Linked DNA regions of Homo sapiens. The protein of the gene in region 1 interacts with the protein of each later gene in a pairwise test. Each region holds a gene or a part of one and is shown in the gene's direction. Other genes may lie near its edges. The genes, in order: USP40 and EPB41L1.

Region 1 (4,025 bases):
TTCCCAATCTGTTGCAGATTAGCACTTTTCTAGTATATAATAAAAATGCCATGGGAATGTCAAATTGCCATTACAATTTCTAAATGCTTATTCTCCTTTAAATACTTAAAGTCTAGCCTACAGACCAGACTCTGAGCAACATTGCTCAGTCTGCCCCAGCCCTCACCACATCAAGTAAGGCAGGAACTCACTTGGAGCCAGGAGAAAGTGAGGCAGGGTGTGCTGAGAACTCCAGAGCGAGATACAGTATTGTGCCTGGAAAATTTCTACAGAGGGGAAATTGTGTGTATCAGAGGTATTTTAGAGAAATAATGGACTATTAGAAGAGATTCAAACTACTGTCAATCTGTAATCAGTTGAGTGGTTTATTAAGGCCTATTTGAGTTTTAATGTTTGTCTGAACCATATCAAGGTAGAAAACTCCAAATAACTATTATTTTTTAGATTGCATTATAATTTTCACAGAAGAACTGAATCATAATTAGTTTTTCCCTTATAATAGGATATTTATAAACTTTCTCCTGAATGAACTGGGAGATATAAAAAAGCTAGTATGCAGTTGTTTTCAAAAGCCTTAGTCAACACTTAAAGAATTCATTTAGAAATGTGTTTGTTTCTCATTCAGGTTCGAATCATCCCTTTACAGTTACAGCGCTTGTTTGCTCAGCTTCTGCTCTTAGACCAGGAAGCTGCATCCACAGCAGACCTCACTGACAGCTTTGGGTGGACCAGTAATGAGGTACGAGGATCAGCTCTTTAAGGAAGAGTTACCAGCAATAGAGGAAAGAATAAGGCTGGTTTAATGTTATCTAACTTCCTTTAATTTTGTCTTAGGGTCTCAACATATTGTTTGAATGTTTCCTTCTCACATTAAAAAATTACAAGCCAGAAATATATATTTTTAGACACTTGCTGTATACAGGATTTTATGAATGGCTGTGATTTGGGGCTGGGGAGAAGATTGGAAAAACGGGGAGAAGTACAAGAGCTGATTTTTACAATTTCTACCCTAAGAGTCTTTATGTAGTCTAGTTGAGATACAACACCGATTACATGGAGATTACCTACCATTTATATAGGAAACTGTTGATCAGTTTTTTAGTCTTTGACCAACAATAATGGATCAATTACATTGTAAGTAAATTTTTAAAAATTCTTTGTTTGTTATGTGCTTTGTGTTTGAATCCACATGTTCTGATTTGAAGGTTTGCTTCAGTCAAAAAAGTGAAATGGTTCTTGGCAGGTCTTTTTATTCCTGTCCTGACTTTCTCCTGACCTTCTCCATTTTCTTTATGAATCTTGTTGTATGTGGGCTTTCTCTCACTTTCCTGTTTGAGTTCTAAAAGGCATTCTACTGTATACGAACACTACACACTTGTCAGCAATGAGTAAAGGTGCTTGTTGCACATATTGATGAGCTGTTATAGCTATACAAATCCAAACAAATCCCAGTCTACCATTTTTATATGGAATAGATGGATGTAATCCTGCAAAGACAGGTATAGGCAACTGTCACAGAAGTTAAAGAGCAAACGATAGGAATACTGTTATATTGCCTTTAATGGTAAACTCTGAAGGGTAGTCTTCTAACCAGGAACACTTCTTAACTAGGTGATACTAACTATGTGATTAAGGAGGTAAGGCATGGACTTTCAAGCAAAATGGGGTATAATACATTCCCTAAACAAGTATGTTAAATTTCTGGTGTAGGGCTGGTATTTGGCGTTAATCCGATTAACAACAAAAACAAACAAACAAAAAAAACACTGTATTGAGATGTAATTTACATGCCACAGAATTCACTCTTTTAAGTGGTACAGTTCAGTGGTGCTTTCTAGCATATTCACAGAGTTGTTCAACCATCACTACAATCAATTTTAGAAAATTTTTACCACCCCAAAAAGAAACTCCATACCCGTTAGCAGTAACTTTCCATCCCCCTCAACTCAGCCGCTGGCAACCACTGACCTCCTTTCTGTCTCTATGAATTTGCCTATTCTGGACATTTCATAGAAATGGAGTGATCCAATAGGTGGTCTCGTAACAGTCTTCTTTCACTTAAAGTACTGTTCTCAGGGTTCATTCATGTTGTAGTATGTGTCGATACTTCATTCCATTTTATTGCCAAATGAGATTCTATTAGATGGATATGCCACATGTTTTTTGTTTTTTTTTTTTAATCTAGTCATTGGTTGATAGATTTTTCTTTGTTTTTGATAATGAGCTTCACTAAGTTGCTGGTTTCTTCTTAATGCTGTGAAAATTTTTTTTGTTTTTTGTCTAAATAAGATCTTGCAGAAAACCCTCTAGGACTGGACCTGCAGTGGTAGGAGAAGGTCTCTGTGGTACCTTTGCGAAGTGTAGGATTGTTTAGGAACAGAGCTTGAAAACTTCCACAAGTTTTCTATCCCATCATAGCCAGTGATATTAGATAAATTACATCCTTGAGGGTCTTGTATTTTAAAAGGCAAGATAGAAGTCCTCCAGCTTTCATCCACTTTATCTGCTGCTCTTCACACAAAACTTTTTTTTTTTTTTTTTTTTTTTTGAGATGAGGTCTCACTGTCACCAGCCTGGAGTGCAATGGCATGATCATAGCTCACTGCAGCCCTGGGTTCAAGGCATCCTGCTGCCTCGGCCTCCCAGGTAGCTGAGATTTTAGGCATGAGCTATTGCTCTTGGTTGAAACTTATTTTTGAAATTGTCTTCCCTTATTGCCTCTGCTTCTGAACTCTCCATTTGTTCCTCTCCTTCCTTTCTACTTTTTTGGTTGAAGTCAACAGTGACATCCCTGTGCCAAGTCCAGAAGACACTTCTCTGTTCTCAGCAGAAGGAGCTCTCAGCAGCACTCACCACCCTCCTTAAAGCCTCAGCTCCTCCTGCTTCCTGGGGCCTCACTCTCCTGGCCCTCCCCCCAGCTGCTCTTCCTCCTCTTCTCCACTTCTCAGTCTTGGTGTGCCCCTTGGTTTGGTTATAAATTTTTCTTAAGCACAAGTTCACACACAACTGCGTGACTCATAATGGATTAAAGCAAGTTCCATCAGGATTTTTTTCTCAGTAACACTGTGTTAGTCTTGTTTTAGTTGTTTTTACTTCAAAGCAGTACATTCTAGTTCTTTTCTATTGTTGATAATTCGGACTATTCACATGTGCTCTGATCTCAGTGAGGTGTTCCTGTGCAGACACTGCCAGCTCTTAGACACTGGTCTGTGCCTGGTATATCCCTCTCTGCTTTCTGTGGCATGGCCATGTGTGTGGTTTCCCACAAGAATAAATGCACATTCTGGGTGTCAAAGGAATTGAGTTACATGTACACACTGAACCCAGCCTGTTCATATTTTCATTTTTTAGTATAAATAAAAATAGGTGGTAATCTCTTAACCAGCTCAGCTTGTTTTGCTGAGTCATTCTTATATCTGATCTTCAGATTGCTTGATAAATCTTGAGTTTTTATTGACTAATGTTTGTTTTTTTAATGTTTTAAAAAATCTGAAGCCCGGAATTACATCTAAAAGTTACCTGTTTTGTAGGAAATGAGGCAACATGATGTGCAGGAACTGAATCGAATCCTCTTCAGCGCTTTGGAAACTTCTTTAGTTGGGACCTCCGGTCATGACCTCATCTATCGTCTGTACCATGGAACCATTGTTAACCAGATTGTTTGTAAAGAATGTAAGAACGTTAGCGAGAGGCAGGTAAATATGCCAGAGTATTTTAGTAATAAGTTATGTTGTAAATTATAATCCATGTAATTAAATGTATGATATATACCACACAAGGATTAAAGTGTTTATTACTAAAAGTAATTTATTGAGTTTTTTTTTCTTCTAACTACACCTAAATCATGAGCCTATAATCCAGATTTCTCCATGTAGATTGAAAGAAGCAAATATCTTGAAACTTAATCTTTTATTCAGTACCCTAATATTTGGAAAATAGATTTGGGGGATATTTACAAATAGAAGACTGTGGCCTCATGTGAGAAGCCAGTGTCATCATGGTTGGAATATTGTAAAGAAAGTTAA
Region 2 (2,780 bases), on another chromosome or scaffold:
GGGGTGGGGGGCCCTAATGGAGAGGTGTGGGTTTGGCAAGAAAGAAGCAACACAGATGTCGTCCCCAAAATGCCAGTTCAAGACACCTTCTCCCTGCCCCCCTGGTAGTAACAGTCAGGGCCTGGTCTGTGCTCAGGTACTGGGTCCCAGTCTGGGACTCTGCTGCTGAAGTTGCCACAGTAGAGGTCCCTGGCTTAGTCCTTATCTCCCTACGGGGCTTGCCTTGGTTTTCAGTCTTCTCTCTCTTTCTCTCTTTTTTTTTTTTTTGCCACATTCTGCCCTTCCCTGACCCCATTGTAATAACCAACTCCATATCCAAAGGGAGGTGGTGCTCTCAGCCATTGTAGAAGATGGTGGCTTTAACCTGACTGTCTAAAAATTCCCAGCTAAGCCTTTTCCTCTACTCTCTTCCTTGTTCTGAATCATTTCTTCTTCTCAGGCCAAAGTAGCCATGGTAAGGAGGCTTCATGGGGCAGACCCTGAAAGATCAAAACTGCATTTGCAAAGCCCTCCCCTGTCCCAGGACAAAGCTGAGACTGACGGGTGATGTTGCTCATAGGCTCCAGCTCTGCATAAGACCTTGGCTTGGAGACCTCCCTCTCAGTCAACAGCTGAACTCTGAGCTTGTGCCCAGAAATTACCCCAAGACCACAGGAACCCTTCAAGAAGCTCCCATCACAAGCTTGGCATTGCTCTCTGCCACACGTGGGCTTCCTCAGGCTTGTCTGCCACAAGCTACTTCTCTGAGCTCAGAAAGTGCCCCTTGATGAGGGAAAATGTCCCACTGCACTGCGAATTTCTCAGTTCCATTTTACCTCCCAGTCCTCCTTCTAAACCAGTTAATAAATTCATTCCACAAGTATTTACTGATTACCTGCTTGTGCCAGGGACTATTCTCAGGCTGAAGAAGGTGGGAGGGGAGGGCGGAACCTGAGGAGCCACCTGAGCCAGCTTTATATTTCAACCATGGCTGGCCCATCTGAGAGCATCTCCCCACTCTCGCCAACCTATCGGGGCATAGCCCAGGGATGCCCCCAGGCGGCCCAGGTTAGATGCGTCCCTTTGGCTTGTCAGTGATGACATACACCTTAGCTGCTTAGCTGGTGCTGGCCTGAGGCAGGGCAGGAAATCAGAATAGCATTTGCTTCTCTGGGCAAATGGGAAGTTCAGCGGGGCAGCAGAATCAGTGGCATTCCCCCTGGTGCAGGCCGGTGGGTCCACTCCAACTCCCCCTGAGTGTAGCAGCACACTTTCCATACACCAGGTTCTTTCTACAATCCTGGTGGAAAAGCCACAGAACCTTCTTCCTGCCCTTCTTGAGAGTTCCCCCTCTTTCTGGGTCAAGAGCTGGAGTGGTGGCTCCATCCTCTCTGGGCCACTTCGGTCTAGGAACTCATCTTTGCAGGAACCAGGAGTCCTGAGCACACTGAACACACCTCAGAGGGAGGATCCTTGTTGTGGATTTTGCACCTGGCTTTGGGGCAGGGGTGAAGTGACCAGGCTTAGCTTGTGGAGTTTATGGGCCACCAGGGTTTGGGGAAATCACCATCCCGCGGATGCTGTGACCTCCCTTCTACGGAGATGCAGGCAGTGCCACGAGGGAGGAGGGGACCTGCAAAGCTAGAATCTAGGGCACTGTTTCCTCCCCATCCTTCTCTTTGTAGAGAATAGAGACGTTTGTCTTGTCTGTCTTCAACCTACTTTTCCTTTTCTCTTTTTTGTTTCTCATCCTCTCTGTGCCACCTCTCCACCCAGGAGGCCATGTAGCATAGTGGAAAAAGTCCCTGAGGGCGGTTAGGAGTTCTGGGTGACCATCCTGGCTCAGCTCCTAACTCACCATGTGACATCAGGCTATCCCCATTCCCCCTCTTGGGCCTCAGTTTCCCGACTTGCAAAATAAGCAGAAAGAACCAGATGCTCTCCAGGGTCTTTTTCTACTTTGCTATCTCATGGGTCTTCATTTTCTCTTATTTTGTTTTCTCTGGATCTTTTCCATCTGAGGGTACAGGAAGTACCAGGACCTGTTTCAGTTTTTGAATCCTGCAAGCACATTCCAAGACTGGCCTGAAACTGCATGAGCAACATCACTCGAAATAATTTTTTTTTTCAAAAGCACCTTAACAACCAATTGCGATGCTGTCCTGTTCCTTTTTACTCACACCCTTCTCTCCTTTCTCGTCCCCATGCTCCCCCACCTCAGTGCTCCGTGCTGTATGCGTGTGCTCTCTGTTCTTGTATACTCAATATAAGTGAAATAAATGTGTTTGATGCTGAACCATACTTCCTTGGCACCTCTCCTCTCTCTCTCTCTCTCTCTCTCTCTCTCTCTCTCTCTCACTGTCTCTCTCTGACTTTGGCCACTGGTACAAGTTGGCACTGTGGGAGGGGCTAAAACTGAAGTGGAGACATCCCAACTTAGAACATGTTTATGCAACAAATATTTGGAACTCAAGGTGGTCCAGGCCTTGGGTGACTCTCCAGGCACAACACAAACAAGACAAAAGTCCCTGCCCTTCATGAACCCACAGGCTAGTGGAGGAAACAGATGCCAACACAGGCAAACAGTCCGTTACAGAGCACTCAGCACTAGGAAGGAAATACACCGGGAGAAGGGAAGGAGGGTCACTGAAGGAGACCACTTTAAATACAGTGGCCAGGTAAGGCCTCCCTGAGGAGGCGATCTGTGAGCTGAATGAAAAGAAGGATCAATCAACAAAGGCGAGGAACTTTGGTGCACATTCTAGGAGAGGGAACAGTAAGCATACAGGCCCCAGGACGTG

Evidence for each region.
Region 2: the proteins of USP40 (region 1) and EPB41L1 interact in a two-hybrid assay, tested with the Homo sapiens proteins (one study listed by BioGRID).

The regions. Positions count from the first base shown.
Region 1 is NC_000002.12:233,556,525-233,560,549, reverse strand, and holds part of USP40 (ubiquitin carboxyl-terminal hydrolase 40), read left to right. Parts: intron 1-625; coding exon 626-739; intron 740-3,530; coding exon 3,531-3,695; intron 3,696-4,025. UniProt on the Homo sapiens protein: May be catalytically inactive.
Region 2 is NC_000020.11:36,230,520-36,233,299, forward strand, and holds the end of EPB41L1 (band 4.1-like protein 1), read left to right. Parts: 3' UTR 1-2,280; downstream 2,281-2,780. UniProt on the Homo sapiens protein: May function to confer stability and plasticity to neuronal membrane via multiple interactions, including the spectrin-actin-based cytoskeleton, integral membrane channels and membrane-associated guanylate kinases.